Linked DNA regions of Homo sapiens. The protein of the gene in region 2 binds, or shares a complex with, the protein of the main gene of each other region. Each region holds a gene or a part of one and is shown on either strand. Other genes may lie near its edges.

Region 1 (3,296 bases), on a different chromosome or scaffold from region 2:
TCGCTTTAACCCAGGAGGCAGAGGTTGCAGTGAGCTGAGATCAGGCCACAGCACTCAAGCCTAAGTGACAGAGTGAGACTCTGTCTCACAAAACAAAAAACAACAAAAAAGATGCATACAGGTGCCAAGCTGACTAGGAATGGACTGTGAACGTTAGTTTTATGCATCAACTTGGCTAGGACACATTGCCTAGTTATTAAAACATGAATCCAGGTACTGCTGTGGATGTATTCTGGAGATGTACTTAACATTTATAATCCCTTAAATTTAAGTAAAAGAGATAATCCTCCATAATGTGGGTGAGACTCATCCAATCAACTGAAAGGCTTTAAGAGCAAAACTGAAGTTTCCAAGAGGACGAACTTCTGCTCTGAAACTGCAGCCTCAGCTCCTACCTGAGACTTTTCAGTCTTCTGGCCCGTCCAACAGATGTTAGACTTGCCAGTCCCCGCAATAGTATAAGCCATTTCCTTGAAATAAATACACATATGTCCAACCGGTTCTGCTTCTTTGGAGAGCCCTGAGACAACTTTCTTCCCCAAATATCCCATTTTATTGTTTGTTGAAATATTTTATTTCTAATTTTATTATTTTTGAACAGTTAAAAACTCAAAGTACAATGAAGTTTACAATGAAAAGGCTCACTCCTGGGATCCTTATCCCCCAGGTATCTAGTTCTGCTCCTTGGAGACTACCAATGTGATCAGGTTCTTCCATATATGTCTTCAGAGACAGTCTACCATATACAAACAAATAGGAATACATACACATTTTTTCTTCTTATACATCAATTGTAGCATGCCATACAGTTTGACACCATGCTTTTCTCAATAAACATTATTATGCCTTAGAGATCTTTTCATCTCAGTACCTAAAGCACTTCTTCATTCCTTTTTCCATTGGGCAAATTAGTTTCACCAATCCTCTGTAATTTATTATCTAAAGTGAGACATTGAGAATGAAAGCACTATTAATAATTATCCAAGAACAGCAGGTATAAACTGGTAGTGTTCAAAAAGCCAAAGCATATGGTTATCCTACCTATGGCAGATATTTAGGTTGCTTCCAATTCTTTGACATTACCAAGTTGCAAAGAATATACTTGTAAATACATACTTTTGCACATCTATGTGCTTTGTTTGGTAGGATAAATTTCTAGAAGTGGAATTGCAGGGCAAAAGGTTATGTATATGAATTTAAAAGTTTCACAGACTGCCAATTGCTGTACATAAAGAGTATAACAAGTCACACTTCCCTAGCAGGCATAGAGAATGCCTGCCCTACTTATTGAATAATCCTTTTCCCATTGTGATCCCGTCTTTATAACAATGTTTTAAGCCCTCACATGTATGTACTGAAGTCTTTTTTCTGGGTGAGTACATACCATTGATATCTAGTTGTGCATTCAGTTCTGTACTACCTTTCAAAAACAGTTAATCTAGGTTTACATTACCCTTTCAAAAATTTCTTAGCAATTTTCACCACCTTATTTTTCCAGATGAACTATGGGATAGTTTATCTATTATACCCCCTCAGAAATTTTAACAGTGGCAGCATTCAACATGTAAAGGTTAAGTAGCTCCATTTGTTATCATTTCTTTTTCTAGGATTTTTAGATATACAATTATTATCTGCAAATAGAAATCTGGCCACCTCATTTCTAAAAGACATTGTTTCATGCACCATTGCACTGGCAAAAATTTCCTGAACGATATTAAATAATCCAGATAATGGGAATTCTGGATTTCAATGAGTACATCTAGTATTTCAATTGTAACAATTAACTACAGTCATGTGTTACGTAACAATGTGGATACATTTCGAGACATGCTTTGTTAGGTGATTTCATCATTATGTGAACATCATACTGTACTGACAGGAACCCCAGATGGTATAGCCTACTACTACACACCTAGGCTATATGGTATAGCCTACTACTACATACCTAGGCTATATGGTATAGCCTACTACACACCTAGGCTATATGGTATAGCCTACTACTATACACCTAGGCTATATGGTATAGCCTACTACTACACACCTAGGCTATATGGTATCGCCTACTACTACACACCTAGGCTATATGGTATAGCCTACTACTACACACCTAGGCTATATGGTATAGCCTACTACACACCTAGGCTATATGGTATAGCCTGCTGTTCTGACCACCCTCGTATGTGGTCCTTCACTAACTGAAACATCATTATATGGTACATGGCTGTATTTATAGCTCTTTGCAGGTAAAGCATTATATCTCTTGCCTCTATTTTATTTACAAAGGCTATTTTCTTGCCCATTTTAAGTGCCCCTAGTCTGTGGTTCTATACCATCCTATGTATAGCTTTATCATAGCACTTTCTATACCTGCTTCCTTTACTGAACTCTAAGTTCTTTAAAGTAAGGTATCACAAATTAATCTCATATTTACACTGAAGAAGGGAGGAAGGATGGAAGGAAGAAAAAGTAGCACATGGCCCGGTGCAGTGGCTCACACCTATAATCCTAGCATTTTGGGAGGCCAAAGCAGGTGGATCACTTTAAGTCAGGAGTTCAAGACCAGCCTGGCCAACATGGTGAATTCCTGTCTCTACTAAAAATACACAAATTTGCCAAGTGCGATGGTGTAAGCCTGTAATCCCAGCTACAAGGGAGAATGGGGCATGAGAACAGCTTGAACCCAGGAGGCAGAGGTTACAGTGAGGCAAGATCATGCCACCACTGCACTCCAGACTGGGCAACACAGCAAGACTCTGTCTCTTAAAAAAAAAAAGAAAGAAAGAAAAAGCAGCACAGCACCTAGCCAATTGCCTCACTGCACAATTCTAGGGATAACAATCACACATATTCTATGTGAAAGGCAACTCCCAGAGCATAGAAATATGATGAGACATGAATGGTGCTTCTTAGAATTGTGCAATGTGATAGCTCGGCTGACTGGCACACAGGTGCTCAATGCATATGTACTGAACTGATCCAGGGAAAAACTGATTGTCAAAGAGCCTAGAAAGAAATTAACTCTGAATGATAGACTGCATTCCTGAACATAAAGGGTATATTCTAGAACTGTAGTACCTCTTTCATGGAGATTAAATTAGGTTCATGCCTGAGGTTTCTTGGTTTCTTTTCTTTTTTGTTTTTGAGACGGAGTCTCTGTTGCCCAGGCTGGGGTGCAGTGGCACAATCTTGGCTGACTGCAATCTCAGGTTTCTTTTCCAGTTAACAGTTCATACTACCGTAAAACAATCTCCAAACCAATACCTACAAGAAACACTCATTATTTATTCATGTGGCTG
Region 2 (3,914 bases):
GCATGGCGGGGCTCACCATATCCAGGGGATTGGGCAAGTCAGATGCTTGCCGACCCCTCAGCAACCTGTCTTGTGCAAAAATGATCAGGGACTCCATCATTAAGCCCCAGGTTACCTTCACCAGCACCTGCAGGGGAACACCCCAGAAGACGAGCCCCATGGCTTCAGAACACACATTTCAGAGGACCAAAAGATGAGGAAGAGATCCACTTCACTCCCCAAAGTCTCTTGCGGAGCCCTAACTCAATCACTCAGTGACCAAGAGCTGGCAATGTACTGAATATTCACAACTGCAGCAAAAGGTACCCTCAAACATAAGGCCCAGAAACTCTTGCTGAATTTCAAAGTAGAAACGCTTGAATGTTAACCTCGGGAGCAGACATGTTATTGCGACTGCATACTGAGTCGGACCTGTTTCTCCTGCGGGTTTTGAGTCTAAGTCCACAAGGGGCCTGGGAGGCAAGCTGTCCTCCTAGTCGTCTCTCCAAGGAGTTTGAACACAGAGAGAGCCCATCATCCCTCCGCCTTTCATTGCCATCTTCAGCGATTCCAACGGCTGGAGGGAGAGTCTGGGAAGCACACAGGCCCCAAACCTGACAGGGCCGAGCCCAGCCCTGATGGTTTCCCTTCCTTGCTGGGACACAGCTCCTTCCAGCAGTTGAGAAACTCAAGGGACAGTCCCTCTCACGGGGCTGGAGGATCCTGTGGACAGCCATCCCTGTCTTTAGGCAGGTGTGTGTGACGGGTCAGTTCCGAGACTCCGAGGCTGTGGGGCTGCGGACCGTGGACATGAGGTGTGACTTGTAGGTCTTGCTCAGGCCAGTCATCCAGAACTTCAGCAGCTTGACATTGTCCTCCTCGGACGCACCCAGGATGCTCAGCAGCTTCTGTGTGTCCTCTTTGGGTCGACTGTCCACCTTGGTGAACTTAAAAAGCACCTTCACTTTGCTGAAGAAAACCAAAACAAAACACTCAGACACCACAGCACAATCCCTCGAGCCCTGGTCACGGGGCCAACCAGGGGTGACACGGCTTTGGCACCAGCAGGAGCTGTGCAGGCAGAGCTGGAATCCACACCCTTGGGGCAGCAGGCTTGGCCCCTGAACTGCTGAAAGGAGCTGTGTCCCAGCAAGGAAGGGAAGCTGTCGGGGCTGGGCTCGGCCCTCTGTCGGGTATGGGTATGGGGCCTGTGCGCTTCCCACACCCTCCCTCAAGCTGTTGTCAAGACGCCAAGAAGAAAGAAAAACCTTCCTTAAACTCGTGGAAGACACTGGTTGCTCCTAAGCTTCACTGCATGATTTTAAATCAGGACAATGTTTGATTAATAAATTTGACCCAAAAAATTACCAAGAATCGAGGCAGGAGGAAATAAAGTAAATTTGCTTACAAAAAAAAAAACCCGGGGGGCCAGGTGCAGTGGCTCACGCCTGTAATCCCAGCACTTTGGGAGGCCAAGGTGGGCGGATCACGAAGTCAGGAGTTCAAGACCAGCCTGGCCAACATGCTAAAACCCTGTCTCTACTAAAAATACAAATATTAGCCAGGCATGGTGGTGGGTGCCTGTAATCCCAGCTACTCCAGAGGCTGAGGCAGAAGAATCGCTTGAACCCGGGAGGCGGAGGTTGTGGTGAGCCAAGATCATGCCATTGCACTCCAGCCTGGGCAACAAGAGCCAAACTCTGACTCAAAAAAAATAAAAAATAAAAATAAAATAAAATAAAAAGCGGGGTGGGGCATGGGTTACTGGGCTTTTAGGTTTTGAAGTTAATTGCACAGCAGATGACAGAGCTTCCATTATGAACCCTCCTGTGAGCTTGGAGCCCTTGCCCAAGCCTCAGTCGCTCTCCAAGGCAGGCGCCACCCCCACCTCCCCATGCAGGAGCCGGAGGCAGACATGATGACCGCCTCCCGAGGCCACCTGAGCTTTGCAGTGGCGGACGTGGAGTTGGAACCCCGCCCCCAACCTCTTCTCTCGGCTCCTCCCTCAGTGGCCACGGCCCAGCTCCTCTTTTGGAAACAGCTCCAGGTTTTCTCCAGGGTCGCAAGCAAAGGGGCCTCACCCACACTGTTGCTTACTTCATCCACTCCTCCTTGAGGCAGACGAGGCACTGGTCCACCACATCCACAGACAGGTTCTGGTTGGTCAGAGCCGCTTCAATCTTATTCAGGATGGTGGGGCCCACTGGGGAGAAGGGCAGGGGCAGAGCAAGGGCAGGCGTTAGCGCGGGGCGGGGGCATCTTCTCACAAAAAGGACACTCTGCCTGGGGGCACCCACCTCGGTCTGCAGCTACAGGGCTCCCACTGGTCACCACAAACTCGTACTTGCTGAGAGACTGGTCATCCTCACACCCCACAGGGTGGAGGGTGGAACGTGCGGCTGCGTGGACCTCCACGATGACAGCAAACTCTGTAACAACACAAGGCCCGTGGCTCCTCATCTCCCCCATGCTCCTCACCTCCCCTGCGCTAGCCCACCGTGGGCCCCACTCCGCTCATCCCAGGTCAGTGGGGAAGGCTGCTGGTGAAAAGACTGGCCCAAATCAATGCTTTGGTATTTAAAACCTTTCAGGTTATTCGTGAATAGTTAAGGGTTAACTTTTGCCTCAGTTAAACTAATAATTTATTATATTACAATAATCACAAAGTACTTTATATACATCAATTTACCTCTGGCTAAGCAGCCCTATGAGGGTGGTCTCACCATGACCCTATTCTACAGATGGGGAAACAGGCCTGGAGACGTTAAATAACCTGCTCGTAGTGGTAAGAATTTGAAGTCTGTTTGAAACCAGAGCCTGTGTTTCCAATGCTACCCGGAAAAAAGGCACTGCCTCGCAGGGAGTCAGGACCCAGCCTGGGTGCTGATTGGGGGCTCAGGGTAGCTCCACTCGGACCATGAGTCAGCAGCTGCTGGTCACCGCTGTGCTGGGGGAAGTCACTGATGAGCCTGGGGGGCTGATCCCTGGACATCCCCAAACCAAAAGACCAGGGGTTTGCTGAGCCCTGACCACACCAGTGAAGGCCGGGAAGACCTCGGGCACATGAGGTGAAGAAAAAGGCTGGAGGAGAGCAGAAGTCAGGACAGGGGAACAGTAGAAGAGTGAGGAGAGGATGGCAGGGCCCACAGAAGCAGGCAGCTCACACCCAGCATTCAGCAGGCCTCCATCTCATAGGCACCCAATCACCAGGACGACCAGGATCCTCCGGCCAGGGACACATCCTCCCACCCCACGATGGTGACCTGCAGCCCACTGACGACAGTCCCTGCCAGCCAACCTTCCCATCAGGTCCACTCACCCACCGCTACCTGTGTGAAGATAGAACACGGAGGCCCAGAGCCATGGGGGAAGCTGGCCCTGCAATGAGGCCTCCTCTCCACAACCCATGACAGAGATCTGGTTCCACTTTGGGCCTGAGGCGTGGGGAACCTCAGCGCAGGGCATGGCCCCACAGCCCGCGGGGGCACGCACCTGAGGAGAGCACGTGGGGGGGGATCTGCACGTGCGGGCTGAGCCCCAGGAAGTTGCACCGATAGGCCTCCTCGTACTGGCTGCTGTATGGGATGATGCGGACGCAGCCCACGGGAAGCATGGTCTGAGGAGGACAGCAGGACTCAGACCAAGGACACGAGGAAGCCCTCAGCCCCGGCCATCCATGCTCTACTACCCAAACCCCACACGCCTCCTGCAGCCCGGTCCAAGCCCTCCCTCCTGCCAGAGGAGTCCCCAGACTCTCAGCCCACAGTGGGGGTGAGGGGGGAGGGTCCTCCACCACCAGGTCCCTAACTCTTGTCTGGACCGCCAGTCACACACCAGCTTGTACCGCCCCTCGCTCTGTGGTGTTAACTCATATTAATGTTTGCCTGCACAGATGTTTGTCTCCTACCGCATCCCACAAAGAAGCTTTTACCAAG

What was found. Proteins that work in one complex are often made in the same cells at the same time.
Region 1: FLCN (region 2) and LAMTOR3 share a complex: the UniProt entries of both Homo sapiens proteins name them as parts of the lysosomal folliculin complex.

Annotation. Positions count from the first base shown.
Region 1 is NC_000004.12:99,877,836-99,881,131, forward strand, and holds the end of LAMTOR3 (ragulator complex protein LAMTOR3), read right to left. Parts: 3' UTR 501-3,296; downstream 1-500. UniProt on the Homo sapiens protein: As part of the Ragulator complex it is involved in amino acid sensing and activation of mTORC1, a signaling complex promoting cell growth in response to growth factors, energy levels, and amino acids.
Region 2 is NC_000017.11:17,212,909-17,216,822, forward strand, and holds part of FLCN (folliculin), read right to left. Parts: intron 3,596-3,914; coding exon 3,472-3,595; intron 2,409-3,471; coding exon 2,277-2,408; intron 2,183-2,276; coding exon 2,077-2,182; intron 949-2,076; coding exon 747-948; 3' UTR 1-746. UniProt on the Homo sapiens protein: Multi-functional protein, involved in both the cellular response to amino acid availability and in the regulation of glycolysis.